Linked DNA regions of Homo sapiens: region 1 is linked to region 2. A link means that fine-mapping ties the variant in region 2 to the expression of a gene that starts in the linked region. Tissue or cell type: whole blood. Region 2 holds a variant in brackets; the other region holds the start of a gene. All regions are shown on one strand. Distances are between the middles of the regions.

Region 1 (8,104 bases), 73 kb after region 2:
AAGACATGCCTGGCCAACATGGTGAAACCCCGTCTCAACTAGAAATACAAAAATCAGCCAAGCACAGTGGCATGCACCTATAATCCAAGGTACTCAGGAGGCTGAGGCAGGAGAATCACTTGAACCCAGGAGGCAGACGTTGCAGTGAGCCGAGATCGCACCACTGCAACTCCCGCCTGGGTGACAGAGAGACCCTGACTAGCTGGGGCAACATGGCAAAACCCTGTCTCTACAAAAATTGGCCAGGCGCGGTGGCTCATGCCTGTAATCCCAGAACTTTAGGAGGCCGAGGTGGGTGGATCACCTGAGGTCAGGAGTTCGAGACCAACCTGACCAACAAGGTGAAACCCCGTCTCTACTAAAAATACAAAAAATTAGCCGGGCCCGGTGGCAGGTGTCTGTAGTCCCAGCTAGTCGGGAGGCTGAGACAGGAGAATTGCTGGAACCCGGGAGGCGGAAGTTGCAGTGAGCCGAGATCGTGCCACTGCACTCCAGCCTGGGCGAAGGAGTGAGACTCCGTCTCAAAAAAAAAGGCAAAGCGGTCTGGTGCAGTGGCTCATGTCTATACTCCCAGCACTTTGGGAGGCCAAGCCAAGTGGATCACTTGAGGTTAGGAGTTTGAAAGCAGCCTGGCTCATGCCTGTAATACCTGCACTTTGAGAGGCTGAGGTGGAAGGATTGCTTAAGCCCACGAGTTCAAGACCAGCCTGGGCAATACAGGGAGACCCTGTCTCCACCAAAAAAAAAAAAAAAAAAAAAAAAAAAAAAAAAATTTAACCAGGTGTGGTAGCATTTACCTGTGGTCCTAGCTACTTGGGAGGCTAAGGTGGGAGGATTTCTGGAGCCAAGAAGATCGAGGCTACAGTGAACTATGATCACACAACTGCACTCCAGCCTAGGCAACACAGTGACTCTCTCAAAAACAAACAACAAAAAAAAAGTCCAAGGTTATGCAAAACTACTCAATATGTCTTTTTTTGGGATACAAACAATTTTAGTCAAATTATAAAGAAAAGCAAGTTAAGTGACAAGCATAAAGTTGAAGACAGTGGTTACCCTAGGGCAAAGGAGGGAGCCATGAGGCGGAACTACACAAAGGACCACAAATATGAGGGTAGTCTTCTGTTTCTTTTTTTCTTTTTTTTTTTTGAGACAGAGTCTCACTCTGTTGCCCAGGCTGGAGTGCAGTGGCGCAATCTCAGCTCACTGCTGCCTCTGCCTCCCAGATTCAAGAGATTCTCCCACATCAGCCTCCCAAGTAGCTGGGACTACAGGTAAGCATTACCATGCCGGGCTAATTTTTGTATTTTTTGGTACAGATAGGGTTTTACCATGTTGAACAGGCTGGTCTCAAACTGCTGATCTCAGGTGATCCTACCACTTCGGACTCCCAAAGTGCTGGGATTATAGGTGTGAGCCACTGTGCCCGTCCTTAAACTCCTTTGATTAAAAATATAGGCAGGGCACAGTGGTTCACACCTGTAATCCCAGCACTTTGGGAGGCCGAGGCGGGCGTATTACCTGAGGCCAGGAGTTTGAGATCAGCCTGGCCAACATGCCAAAAGCCCGTCTCTACTAAAAATATAAAAAATTAGCCAGGCATGGTGGCGGGCACCTGTAATCCTAGCTACTCGGGAGGCTGAGGCAGGAGAATTGCTTGAGCCGGGCAGGCAGAGGCTGCAGTTAGCTGAGATCTCTCCACTGCACTCCAGCCTGGGCAACATGAGTGAAACTTCGCCTCAAAAAAAAAAATATATATATATATAAAACAAAACTTACCAATTAACCTTTTTAAAGTGTACAGTTCAGTCTTAAGTAGATTCACATTGTTGTGAAACAGATCTCTAGAACATTTTCATCTTGCAAATCTGAAACTCTGTACCCATTAAACAACTTCCCATTCCTCCTTACCGCAGCCTCTAGCAACCACCATTCTACTTTTCTGTTTACATGAATTTGACTACTTCAGATTCTCATATAAGTGGGGATCATACAATATTTGTCCATTACTGGTTTACTTCACTTAACATAATATCGTCAACATTCATCCATGTTGCAGCATATGACATTTTCTTTTTTATTTTCACTTATTTATTTATTTTTGAGATGGAGTCTCACTCTGTCACCCAGGCTAGAGTGTAGTGGTGCCATCTCGGCTCACTGCAACCTCCACCTCCCAGGTTCAAGCAATTCTCCCTGCCTCAGCTTCCTGAGTAGTTGGGATTACAGGCGCCCACCACCATGCCCAGCTAATTTTTGTATTTTTAGTAGAGACAGGGTTTCACCATGTTGGCCAGGCTGGTCTTGAACTCCTGACCTTAGGTGATCTGCCCTCCTCGGCCTCCCCAAGTGCTGGGATTACAGGCGTTAGCCACCGCACCCGGCCATCTTATTTTTATTTTTTGAAGAGATGGAGTCTTGCTCTGTCACTCAGGGTGGAGTACAGCAGTGCAATCATGGCTCACTGAAGCCTCAACCTCCTAGGCACATGTAATCCTCCGACTTCAGCTTCCAGAGTAGCTAGGACTACAGGCACATGCCACAATGCCCAGCTGATTTTTTTTTGAGACGGAATCTCGTTCTGTCACCCAGGCTGGAGTGCAGTGGCGTGATCTCGGCTCACTGCAACCTCGGCCTCCCGGATTCAAGCAATTCTTCTGCCTCAGCCTCTCAAGTAGCTGGGATTACAGGCATGTGCCACCATGCCCGGCTAATATTTTTGTACTTTTAGTAGAGACAAGGTTTCACCATATTGGCCAGGCTGGTCTCAAACTCCTGACCCTCTGATCCACCCACCTCGACCTCCCAAAGTGCTGGGACTACAGGCGTGAGACACCGCGCCCGGCCTGCCCAGCTAATTTTTGTATTCTTTATTTTATTTTATTTTTTGTGGAAACAGGATCTCGCTATGTTGCTCAGGCTGGTCTGGAACTCCTGGACTCAAGCAATCCTCCCACCTTGGCCTCCCAAAGTGCTGGGATTACCAGCATGAGCCGCTGCATCCAGCCAAGATTTTCTTCCTAAGGCTGAATGATATTCTATTGTATATGACACATTTTGTTTATCCATCTATCAATGGACACTGGGGTTACCTCTCCCTTTTGACTATTGCAAATAATGCTGCTATGAACATGACTGTACAAGTAACTGAGTCCCCGCTTTCATTTCTCTTGGATTCAGACCCAGAAGTGGTACTGCTGGATCATATGGCAATTCTATTTGTTAATTTTTTGAGGGAACTGCCATACTGTTTTCCATAGCTGCTGTACCATTTTACATTCTTACCAACAATACACAAGGGTATATTTCTTAATATATGGGGGCTGGGTGCAGTGGCTCACGCCTGTAATCCCAGCACTTTGGGGGGCTGAGGCAGGTGGATCACCTGAGGTCAATAATTCGAGACCAGCCTGGCCAACAAGGCAAAACCCTGTCTCTACTAAAAATACAAAAATTAGCCGGGTGTGGTGGCACGTGCCTGTAACCCTCGTCACTTGGGAGGCTGAGGCAGGAGAATTGCTTGAAGCCAGGAGGTGGAGGTTTCAGTGAGCCAAAATCACGCCACTGCACTCCAGCCTGGGCGACAGAGGGAGACTCCACCTCAAAATATATATATATATGGAACCTAAGACAAAAGCCTGCACTCACCCCTAATCTGCTAAATTCAAGTTCTCTCCATGATGAGGTTTCAAAAGGAATTAGTGCAAAATGTATTTAAGGATATGACCAGAAAGGAGAAAGAAAAAACAAATGGCTATTACACACACAGCAGAAAAGTAACACTAGGAGGCAAAGGAACTCAATGAAGAAATATTTCGGTGGCAGGCGGTGGTTCAGCCTGTAATCCCCGCACTTTGGAAAGCTAAAGCAGGAGAATCACTTGAGCCCAGGAGTTCAAGACCAGCCTGAGCAACATAGTGATACCCCTGTTTCTATTTATAAATAAATAAATAAATAAATATTTCCAACCAAAGAATACAAACTTAGTAAAGCTAATGAAGGAAGAACACAGTGAAGAGCTGCCGATGTAAGAGAAAAAAAGAAAATTTCCGGAGGAAAAAAGTTCAAAGATTTGCAACTATTTCCTCAGAAGGAACTGGGAAAAGGGAGTTTTGAGTAATAAGGCCTTGTGCAAGTTTCTGACTCTTAAGGATGTGAATGTACTGCCTTAAAAAATAAACTAAAAAGAGCCTCTTTTCTCACCACAACTCAACAATCATGAAGGTATCCTTGCAAGTGTGTGTAGACCTCTCATGCCTCCTAGGTCCAGGGTCACTCGTCCAGGACTCTCCCAATATCCCTGCCCAGAGGAAGCGCTTCCTCAGACTCGGTTCCTTCTGGTTGCCCTTGTCTCGCTTCTCTAGGGTGGGCTGGCCGCTCCCGCACTGGGGTCAAAGATCCTCCGGGTTCTCTCTGCCACGACTCGCCCTGATCCCAAATCCCAGCCCCACGGTCCCCACCCCCAGCGGGCCCAGTCCCCGCTCGATCCTGGGTGTGCGGCCCTCGACCTCAGACCCGGCCCCTGCCCGCCGGCCGCCCCTCACCTCGGCCTCGGAGGCTCCACGCTCCCCCTCTCACAGCCCGCACCTCGGCGGTCTCTCGGAGGAGGGAGGAACCCGAGGTACCTGGTAGTCGTAGCTGAGGAACTTACAGGCTTGTTGACCATCTCACCATGGAAACTGCCGCAGCGCTCCCTGGGCGGGGCCGCCGAGGGGCGGGGCCTGCGCGAATCCCGGGCGCCCGCCAGTCCAGCGCTCCCTGCGCTTCCGGAAGCCTTGCTGCTCCCGCGTGCCTAGCGGGGGCTCGGCCCTATGCCACGGGCATCCCACCCTGCTACCAGCTGCCCTCTTGTCCGCTGGCCGGACTCTTACCCCAGCCTTCTTCAGGAAGACACGGCGCAGTCCGGCTTCCCCACGAAAGCGAAGGTCGCTGGGACCGCGGCTGGGCGTCCGGGGGCGGGGCCGCGACGCCATTGTGACGCGCTCGGAGCAGGGCTGGGCCGAGGACCCCGGGCGCTGGAGGGCAGGCCCTAGCCACTGCTCCTGAGGCCCTGGAGGCAGCTGACGCTTGAGGCCGCTGGGCGCCGCAACGTGAGCCCAAAGGACGCCCCGCTTCAAGACTGGCGCAAGAGGAAAAAATGAAGGTCGTTTTCTGCGGAGGATGTTAGGAGAACGAGAACTGCGGGCCAGAGAACTGACCTAGCTTAAGGAGCGCAGGCAGCCTCTGCCGCCGGCTCTTGGGGAGACACGGAGAGGATGGGGTCCCCGCTCCGCATCAGGTCCTCTGACGCACCCCGGCTTTCCAGGAGGTAGGACTGGCCACAGGCCTCCTTCCCAGGGACAAAGTGCAAAGCAGAGGCTGTCAGCAGCGTGACCTTCGCTGCAGGAGAAATACGCGTCCAGTTCGTTTTCGTCAGAGTTCTGCTACATCAGGCCTGCCGTATTTGCTGTACACAAATCAGCCAACTTCCCAGGCCTGGGTGCGGAGGTATTTGTTAAGCACATGCACACAGTTGGAATTAGCAGCCTCAGGGATCAAAAGTTGTCCTTTTTTTTTTTTTTTTTTTTGGAGACGAAGTTTCGCTCTTGTTGCCCAGGCTGGAGTGCAGTGGCGCGATCTTGGCTCACTGCAACCTCCGCCTCCCGAGTTCAAGTGATTCTCCTACCTCAGGCTCCCGAGTAGCTGGGATTACAGTCGTCCGCCACCACGCCCGGTTAATTTTTTTTGTTTTTAGTAGAGATGGGGTTTCACCATTTTGGCCAGGCTGGTGTCGAACTCTTTTTTTTTTTTTTTTTTTTTTTTTTTGAGACGGAGTCTCGCTCTGTCACCCAGGGTGGAGTGCAGTGGCGCGATCTCAGCTCACTGCAAGCTCCGCCTCCCAGGGTCACGCCATTGTCTTGCCTCAGCCTCCCGAGTAGCTGGGACTACAGGCGCCCGCCACCACGCCCGGCTAATTTTTTGTATTTTTAGTAGAGACGGGGTTTCACCGTGTTAGCCAGGTTGGTCTTGATCTCCTGACCTCGTGATCCGCCCGTCTCGGCCTCCCAAAGTGCTGGGATTACAGGCATGAGCCACCGTGCCCGGCCTGGTGTCGAACTCTTGACCTCAGGTGATCCACTGGCCTCGGCCTCCCAAAGTGGTAGGATTACAGGCGTGAGCCACCGCGCCCCTGCCCAAGAGTTGTCATTTCTGTAGCAAAGCAGCTAAGCAATATTCTTTTGCCTGCCACCTAAATGTGATTAGGTGCAGCATCATTAAGAAAAAAAATAAAAAGCCCGGGCGTGGTGGCTTACGCCTGTAATCCTAACACATTGGGAGGCCAAGGCGGGTGGATCACCTGAGATCAGGAGTTTAAGATCAGTCTGGCCTACATGGTGAAACTCCAACTCTACTAAAAATTCAAAATTAGCTGGGTGTGGTGGCACATGCCTGTGATCCCAGTTATTCGGGAGGCTGAGGCAGGAGAATAGCTTGCACCCGGGAGGCAGAGGTTGCTGTGAGCCGAGATCTCGCCATTGCACTCCAGCCTGGGCAACAAGAGCGAGACTCTGTCCCAAAAAAAAAAAAAAAAAAAAAAAAAAGCCCTGAGACCCACGGTAGCTGGCCTGGATTACTTGATGAACATAAACAGGTTCACAGAAAATTGATATCAGACGAGTTCTTTCTGTGACTGAGGGAAGGAGAAAATAATTCCGATCAGTGATCTTGCCTGCATAAATAAAAACTGGCACTGCGCAACCACACACACAGAAGAATAAACATCCCTTCTTCAGCTAGCATGAGTAATTACTGCTTTTTCTCCAATGACAGCTTTAGCTCCTCTCTATTCCTCCTGCTTTCTGGATTTAAAAAAAATTTTTTTTTTTTTTTTTTGAGAAGGAGTCTTGCTCTGTCGCCCAGGCTGGAGTGAAGTAGCACAATTTCGGCTCACTGCAACCTCTGCCTCCCAGGTTCAAGCAATTCTCCTGTCTCAGCCTCTCGAATAGCTGGGATTACAGGCACCTGCCACCTAGTAGAGATGGGGTTTCACCAGGTTGGCCAGGCTGGTCTCAAACTCCTGACCTCAAGTGATCGCCTGCCTCGGCCTCCCAGAGTGCTGGGATTACAGGCATGAGCCACCGCGCCCCACCTAAAATTGTTGAAATAATCTTTGAGTGGCCGGGCGCGGTGGCTCACGCCTGTAATCCCAGCACTTTGGGAGGCCGAGGCGGGCGGATCACGAGGTCAGGAAATCGAGACCATCCTGGCTAACACGGTGAAACCCCGTCTCTACTAAAAATACAAAAAATTAGCCGGGCGAGGTGGCGGGCGCCTGTAGTCCCAGCTACTCGGGAGGCTGAGGCAGGAGAATGGCGTGAACCCCGCGGGGCGGAGCCTGCAGTGAGCCGAGATCGCGCCACTGCACTCCAGCTTGGGTGAAAAAGCGAGACTCCATCTCAAAAAAAAAAATAATAATAATCTTTGAGTTGCCCCTGTTAGTACAGCACCAATCCAAAACACACCCCTGTCCTTGGACCCTCCCCAAAATCACCAGCCACAAGTCCAAATGGTATAACAAGCCCTCTAACAAGTCTCCTAAGACACCCCATGGTTTCAGAGGTGTGATGTCTCATTGCAGCAACTAACAGCCCCAAATAATAACTAGTTCACAGTGAGGAATATATGCATTCACTGAAATAGCAAATCATCATTCCACCATATGTATGCCTTTTGTAGTCTGACTGGTAGACACGGCAAATATAGATACACTTATATATGAAGGATACGTAACTCATATGCACAAATGAAACTTCAGAGCCTATACTCTAATGAAAAATCAAAATAAATTTTTCTTTCTTTTTTTTTTTAACTCTTTGAGACAGGGTCTTGCACCATCCCCTAGCCAGGAGTGCAGTGGCAGGATCTCAGCTCGCTGCAGCCTTGACAGCTCAAGCAATCTTCCCACCTCAGCCTCTCAGCCTCCCGGTAGCTGGGACGACAGGGGGTCACCACCACACCCAGCTGATTTTTTTTTTTTTTTTTTTTTGAGATGGTGTCTCGCACTGTCTCCCGGGCTGGAGTGCAATGGTGCGATCTCGGCTCACTGCAACCTCCACCTCCCAGG
Region 2 (8,104 bases):
GCTTGAGTTTTCTAATTCATATAAATAAATCTGCAGAACAGGCATGGGAATGGATATTAAGGGTGTGGGATAATGGTGGAAAGAACACAAAGTTTGATCAGGCTGAATTTATTGATTTGAGTCCACTAAGTACGGACTCTGCATTCAATGTTGCCACTTGGGTAGTTAAAAAAGGTTCTAATAGTTTATTTGCTTGGTTAGCTAAAATACAGATAAGAAGATGATCCACTGTGAGCAAGCTGGATATGCCTCATCTCCCTTGGTTTAACGTAGAGGAAGGGATACAAAGGCTTAGGGAGATTGGGATGGTGGAGTGGATTAGTCACTTTAGACCTACTCATCCCAGCTGGGAGGGCCCAGAAGATATACCCTTGACCAATGCCTTGTGAAACAGATTTGTGAGGGCAACACCTGCATCTTTGAAGAGCCCTCTAATTGCTCTTCTCTGTATGTCAGATCTAACAGTGGGAACTGCAGACACTCAACTACAAAATTTAAATATAATGGGAATAATTGGATCCCAAGGTGGCAGGGGCCAAGTGGCAGCACTCAACCATCAAAGGCAAGGTGGGCGTGGCTACTCTGATGGACAGCAGAGGCAAAGTGGCAATCAGAAGATCCTGACTAATGTAGAGCTCTAGCATTGGCTAATCATGGTGTTCCTACAAGTGAAAGTGATAGGAAGCCTACTGCATTCCTACTTAATTTATATAAGCAGAAAATTTCTAAGTCGAAGGGACAAAAGTCTAATTTGAATTATAAAAACAGAGAATCAGCCAGCACAGTGGCTCACACCTATAATCCCAGCACTTTGGGAGGCCAAGGCAGGTGGATCACCTGAGCTCAGGAGTTCAAGACTAGCCTGGCCAACATGGTGAAACCCCATCTGTACTAAAAATACAAAAATTAGCCAGGCATGGTGGCACAAACCTGTAATCCCAGCTACTCAGGAGGCTGAGGCTGGAGAATTGCTTGAACCCAGGAAGTGGAGGTTGCAGTGAGTCGAGATCACACCAATGCATTCCAGCCTGAATGACAGAGGGAGACTCTGTCTCAAAAACAAACAACAAAAACAAACAAAAAAACAAACTAGAGAATCACAACCCCTCAATCAATTTCCAGACTTGAGCCAGTTTACAGATCCAGAACCCCTTGAATGAAGGGGAGACCAGGTCCCCTTGAGGAAGAACCCTACTACATTACCGACAATTTACATAGTGACTCTTTCTCCCATCCTTCCACAAGGAGACCTCCAACCTTTTACCAGGGTAACTGTGCACTGGGGAAAGTGAAATGATCAGACATTTCGGGGACTGCTGGACACTGGCTCTGAGCTAACGATTCCAGGGGACCCAAAACATCACTGGTCCTACAGTTAAAGTAGGGGCTTATAGAGATCAGGTAATTAATGAAATTTTAGCTCAGGCCCAACTTACAGTGGGTCCAGTGGGTCCCCGGACTTACCCTGTGGTCATTCCTGAGTGCCAGAATGCATAATTGGCATAGACATACTTAGCAGCTGGCAGAACTCCCATATTGGCTCCCTGACTGGTAGGATAAGGGCTATTATGGTGGTAAAGGCCAAATGAAAGCCATTAGAGCTGCCTTTACCTAGAAAAATAGTAAATCAAAAACAATATCACATCCCTGGAGAGACTGTGGAGATTAGTGCTACTACCAAGGACTTGAAAGACGCTGGGGTGGTGATTCCCACCACATCCCCATTCAGCTCTCCCATTTAGCCTGTGCAGACGACAGATCTTGGAGAATGACCATGGATTATTGTAAGCTTAACAAAGTGGTGACTCCAATTGCAGCTGCTGTACCAGATGTGGTTTCATTGCTTGAGCAAATTAGCACATTTCCTGGTAGGTGGTATGCAGCCATTGTCTTGGCAAATGTCTTTTCCTCCATTCCTGTCCATAAGGCCCACCAAAAGCAATTTGCCTTCAGCTGGCAAGGCCAGCAATATACCTTTACTGTCCTACCTCCAGGGTATATCAATTCTCTGGCTTTGTGTCATAATCTTATTCGGAAGCACCTTGATCGCTTTTTCTTATTTGGAGACACCTTGATCACTTTTCGCTGCCGCAAGATATCACACTGGTCCATTACATTGATGATATTATGCTGACTGGATCCAGTGAGCAAGAAGTAGCAAACACACTGGACTTACTGGTGAGACATTTGTGTGCCAGAGGATGAGAAATAAAACTGACTTAAATTCAGGGAACTTCTACCTCAGTAAAATTTCTAGGGGTCCAGTGGTGTGGGGCCTGTTGAGATATTCCTTCTAAGGTGAAGAATAAGTTGCTGCATTTGACCATTCCTTCAACCAAGAAAGGCACAATGCCTAGTAGGCCTATTTGGATTTTGGAGGCAAAGCATTCCTCATCTGGGTGTGTTACTCCAGCCCATTTATCAAGTGACCCGAAAGGCTGTCAGTTTTGAGTGGGGTCCAGAACAGAAGAATGCTCTGCAATAGGTCCAGGCTGCTGTGCAAGCTGCTCTGCCACTTGAGCCATATGACCCAACAGATCCAATGGTGCTGGAGGTGTCAGTGACAGACAGGGTGCTGTTTGGAGCCTTTGGCAGGCCCCCATAGGTGAATCACGATGGAAGCTTCTAGGATTTTGGAGCAAGGCCCTGCCATCTTCTGCAGATAACTACTCTCCTTATGAGAGACAGTTCTTGGCCTATTACTGGGCTCTGGTGGAAACTGAAGGTTTGACTATGGGTCATCAAGTCACCTGGCAACCTGAACTGCCTATTATGAACTGGGTGCTTTCTGACTCATATAGCCATAAAGTGGGTCATGCGCAGCAGCATTCCATCATCAAACGGAAGTGGCATATATGTGATCAGGCTCGAGCAGGTCCTGAAGGCACAAGTGAGTTACATGAGGAAGTGGCTCAAATGCCCATGGTCTCCACTCCTGCCACCATGCCTTCTCTCCCCCAGCCTGCACCGATGGCCTCATGGGGAGTTCCCTATGATCAGTGAACAGAGGAAAAGAGGACTAGGGCCTGGTTCACAGATGATTCTGCACGATATGCAGGCATCACCTGAAAGTGGACAGCTGCAGCACTACAGCCCCTTTCTAGGACATCTCTGAAGGACAGCGGTGAAGGGAAATCTTCCCAGTGGGCAGAACGTTGAGCAGTGCACCTGGTTGTGCACTTTACATGGAAGGAGAAATGGCCACATGTGCGATTATATATTGATTAATTGGCTGTAGCCAATGGTTTGGCTGGATGGTCAGGGACTTGGAAGAAGCATTACTGGAAAATTGGTGACAAACTTGGGGAAGAGGTGTGTGGATGGATCTCTCTCAGTGGTCAAAAACTGTGAAGATATTTGTATCCCATGTGAGTGCTCACCAACAGGTGACCTCAGCAGAGGAGGATTTTAATAATCAAGTGGATAGGATGACCCGTTCCGTGGACAGCACTCAGCCTCTTTCCTCAGCCACCCCTGTCGTCGCCTAATGGGCCCATGAACAAAGTGGCCATGGTGGCAAGAGTGGAGGTTATGTATGGGCTCAGCAACATGGACTTCCACTCACCGAGGCTGACCTGGCTATGGTCACTGATGAGTGCCCTATTTGCTAGCAGCAGAGACCAACACTGAGCCCTTGATATGGCACCATTCCTCGGGTGATCAGCCAGCTACCTGGTGGCAGGTTGATTATATTGGACCTCTTCCATCATGGAATGGACAGAGGTTTGTCGTCATTAGAATAGACACTTACTCTGGATATGGGTTTGCCTATCCTGCACACAATGCTTCTGCCAAGACTACCATCTGTGGACTCACAGAATGCCTTATCCACCATCACAGTATTCCACACAGCACGTCCTCTAACCAAGGTGCTTACTTTATGGCTAAAAAAGTGCGGCAGTGGGCTCATGCTCATGGAATTGACTCATCTAACCATGTTCCCCATCATCCTGAAGCAGCTGGATTGACAGAACAGTGGAATGGCCTTTTGAAGTCACAAATATAACACCAACTAGGTGACAATATTTTGCAAGGCTGGGGCAAAGTTCTCCAGAAGGCTGTGTATGCTCTGAATCAGCATCCAATATATGGTACTGTTTCTCCCATAGCCAGGATTCATGGGTCCAGGAATCAAGGGATGGAAGTGAAAGTGGCACCAGTTACCATCACCCCTAGTGTTCCACAAGCAAAATTTTTGCTTCCTGTTCCCGCAAAATTACGTTCTGCTGGCCTAGAGGTCTTAGTTCCATAGGGAGGAACACTGCCACCAGGAGACCCAACAACAATTCCATTAAACTGGAAGATTGCCACCTGAACACTTTGGGCTTCTTCTACCTTTAAGTGAACCGGCTAAGAAGGGAGTTACAGGGCCGGGCACGGTGGCTCACGCCTATAATCCCCGCACTTTGGGAGGCCAAGG[C/T]GGGCGGATCATGAGGTCAGGAGTTTGAGACCAGCCTGACCAACATGGTGAAACCCTGTCTCTACTAAAAATACAAAAATTAGCCAGGCATGGTGGCATGTGCCTGTAATCCCAGCTACTCAGGAGGCTGAGGCAGGAGAATTGCTTGAACCCGGGAGGCAGAGGTTGCAGTGAACCAAGATCATGCCATTGCACTCCAGCCTGGGCGACAGAGTGAGACTCCTTCTCAAAAAAAACAAACAAAAAAAAGGGAGTTACAGTGTTGCCTGGGATGGTTGTCCCGGATTATCAAGATGGAATCAGTCTACTACTCCACAATGGAGGTAAGGAAGAGTATGCATGGAATACAGGAGATCCATTAGGGTGTCTCTTGGTATTACCATGTGCTGTAATTAGATCAATGGGAAACTACAACAGCCCAATCCAGCCAGGACTACAAATGACCCAGACCCTTCAGGAATGAAGGTTTGGGTCACTCCACCAGGAAAAAAACCATGACCTGCTGAGGTGCTTGCTGAAGGCAAAGGGAATACAGAATGGGTAATAGATGAAGGTAGTCATCAATACCAGCTATGACCATGTGACCAGCTGCAGAAACGAGGACTGTAATTGTCATATTTCCTCCCTCTTTTGTTAAGAACATGTTTGTGCATATATATACTTGTACTAAAAAAATCTTCATTTTATTTCCTTTCCCTTTATCATGTGACATAAGATTTATTGACTTCACATCAGCATTTATGTATTGTTAACTTTATGTAATAGTATTTGGGTTGGGAATTGGTACGTTTCCCATTGTATGAAGGACAGTTGTATTATGTTAGGCATAATTATGACCTTATTATTGTCTTTATTTGAAGATTATATATGATCTCAGGAGATGTGTATGGGTTCAAGTTGACAACCGGTGGACTTGTGATGGTTAATACTGAGTGTCAACTTAATTGTATTGAAGGATACAAAGTATGGATCCCGGGCGTGTCTGTGAGGGGGTTGCCAAAGAAGATTAACATTTGAGTCAGTGGGCTGGGAAAGGCAGACCCACCTTAATCTGGGTGGGCACAATCTAATCAGCTGACAGCGAGGCTAGAATATATATAGGCAGAAATACGTGAAAAGAGAGACTGGCCTAGCCTCCCCGCCTACATCTTTCTCCCATGCTGGATGCTTCCTGCCCTCGAACATTGGACTCCAATCCTTTTGGAACTAATCCTTTTGGAAGTTGGACTGGTTCTCCTTGCTCCTCAGCTTGCAGATGGCGTGTTGTGGGGCCTTGTGTTTGTGTGAGTTAATCCTTAATAAACTCCCATGATATATATATATATATATATATATGTTCCATTAGTTCTGTCCCTCTAGAGAACCCTAATACAAGCCAAATCTACAATAGCAAAATATTTACCAGTTGTTTATTAGATAGAGTCAGTAACTTCAATAATATTGGGTATCAGGTCTGAGGACCTTAAGGTTCCAGTAATCCACCATGAGGCACTATTCACATTCATGCTTTCCAGGTTAAAAAGGCCAAGTTTGGCTGCTAGATGCAGGTGCAGTGGGATAATCACCCCTTCATACAAGTTTCAATTCTTTTTTTTTTTTTTGGACAGAGTCTTGCTCTGTCACCCACGCTGGAGTGCAGTAGTGCAATCTTGACTCACTGCAACCTCCACCTCCTGTGTTCAAGTGATTCTCATGCCTCAGCCACCCGAGTAGCTGGGATTACAGGTGTGCACCACCATGCCTAGCTAATTTTTGTATTTTTAGTACAGAGAGCGTTTTGTCATGTGCCCCAGCTGGTCTTGAACTCCTGAGTTCAAGCAATCTGCCTGCCTCAGCCTCTTGAAATGCTGGGAGCCACCGTGCCCAGCCTTAATTCTTGAAGGCCCTGTTTTAATTTACATTGGCCACATTAACTATTTTATTTAATTTTATTTATTTATTTATTTTGAGGTGTAGTTTCACTCTTGTCACCCAGGCTGAAGTGCAGTGATGCAATCTTAGCTCACTACAACCTCCGCCTCCCAGGTTCAAACGATTCTCCTGCCTCAGCCTCCCGAGTAGCTGGGATTACAGGCATGCACCACTACACCTGGCTAGTTTTTTTGTTTGTTTGTTTTTGTTTTTGTTTTTTGTATTTTTGTATTTTTAGTAGAGACGGGATTTTGCCATGTTGGCCAGGCTGGTCTCAAACTCCTGACCTCAGGTGATCCACCCGCCTCGGCCTCCCAAAGTGCTGGGATTACAGGCATGAGCCACCGTGCCCAGCCCGATATTATTTTAACTGTGGTTTTCACAAGGTCCCTTTTCATTAAGCCAAGTTGTTAAGTGCCAATGACTTCATTTTAATTTATTGCTCACTGATTCCATGTCCACCACGGTACATTTTAAGGTCATAAGTGCTATGACCATGTGGTATCTTGGAGAGACAACAGTTAAGGTGAGGCATACTTATTTAGTCTCTATTTTATATTCAGAAACTCCCCTAAAAACATACAGACAAGGAGGGGAAGTTCTTTTTATTCTGCTCATATTTATAGATTTCTTTCTCCAGAGAGCCTCAAATCATTATCATCAGGGTGAGAGGCCTCCTCCTTCCCTGCAAGGCAATGGTTGGTTTACAGGGTTTAAGAACCTCAGGCTTAAGCTGGGTTTGAATTAACCCCCTCACAATGCCACAGGGTGCCATAGGGTGGCTTTTCCCTATGACCCTACAGAGGAGGATTTTTCTTGCAATGGAGGCTCGGGCAGCAAAGTACTGCAGTGGAAACCTGCAAGGCCCATGGCCCAGTGGTGGGTGGACTGAAACTATCCTTAGCAACAGTCCCGCCTTTTCCATGACACAGGCTTTTTTATTGCTGTCTATATATAAATTGCCAAACAATATTTTAGATTTCTAGCCACAATAAGTTGCAGCTTTCCATTTCAGTCACTGTCCCATCACCATGTGGACCTTCTGGATGAGAACAGGGAAAGGTTCAGGGGCCCAATGGCCCACCTTGTAGGCAGCTGCCCCTTCTGACAGGGAGGGCCAATCAATATCTCCAGGGTTAGGATCCACATCCAGGAAGGTCATTTTGTTTATGGCCCAGGTGGGAGCCAACAAGCTGTGCCATTACAAGCTTAGCCCTCTGGCTTCTTGGTAAGCAGCCATACTAAGCAAAGCCCAGGTGCACTGGCTAGGGGTTTTGCATGGGGAAAGCAGTTGAGCTACATTCTCCAGCAGGAGAGGCTGGTACCAAATGCTCCTTCTATTTTTTCATCAGCTCCTCGGTTGTGGGCTACAACAGATTTGCACCTTCATGCTCTTAGACACCAGGAGAGCACGCTGAACAGAAGCAGGGGAAGCAACAGCACAAGTGCCAGGCAAGGCCATTACTCTTGCCTGAAAAACACTCACTAGGCATCCATGGTGCCATGTTTAATTCTCCCTGGAGTAGTGGTCTTCTTTCTTCCTTTCCGCTAACCTCAGGAAGGGCAGACCTGTCCCAGGGGGTGGGTGCACAATCACAAATAACATCTGTATAGCTCCCCCAGGTAGCCAGTGATGGTTCACAGAGTAGACACAGCAACAAAAGAGATCTGGCCTGACTCGTGGTAAGCTGAACTCAAGCACCAACTGGTTAGGGTGCTGTGTTGTTGCTGCCTCTACAGGAGGGAGCCTCATAAACCACCTATAAACACACC

Evidence for each region. PIP is the estimated chance that this variant, and not a neighbour inherited with it, causes the effect.
Region 1: ZNF487 starts here. The variant in region 2 is fine-mapped to the expression of ZNF487 in whole blood (TOPMed, PIP above 0.99).

What each region holds. Positions count from the first base shown.
Region 1 is chr10:43,433,703-43,441,806 of GRCh38, reverse strand. ZNF487 (zinc finger protein 487) reads right to left here and starts at 4,696. Exons shown (of 4, transcript NM_001355444.3): 1 at 4,545-4,696. RefSeq lists a silencer at 4,412-5,071 and an enhancer at 5,172-5,241.
Region 2 is chr10:43,507,110-43,515,213 of GRCh38, reverse strand. It overlaps a transcript of ZNF487 not described here. Among named protein-coding and RNA genes, the nearest start is that of ZNF239, 63 kb to the left of the region's middle. The variant C/T (reference allele first, on the strand shown) is at 4,421.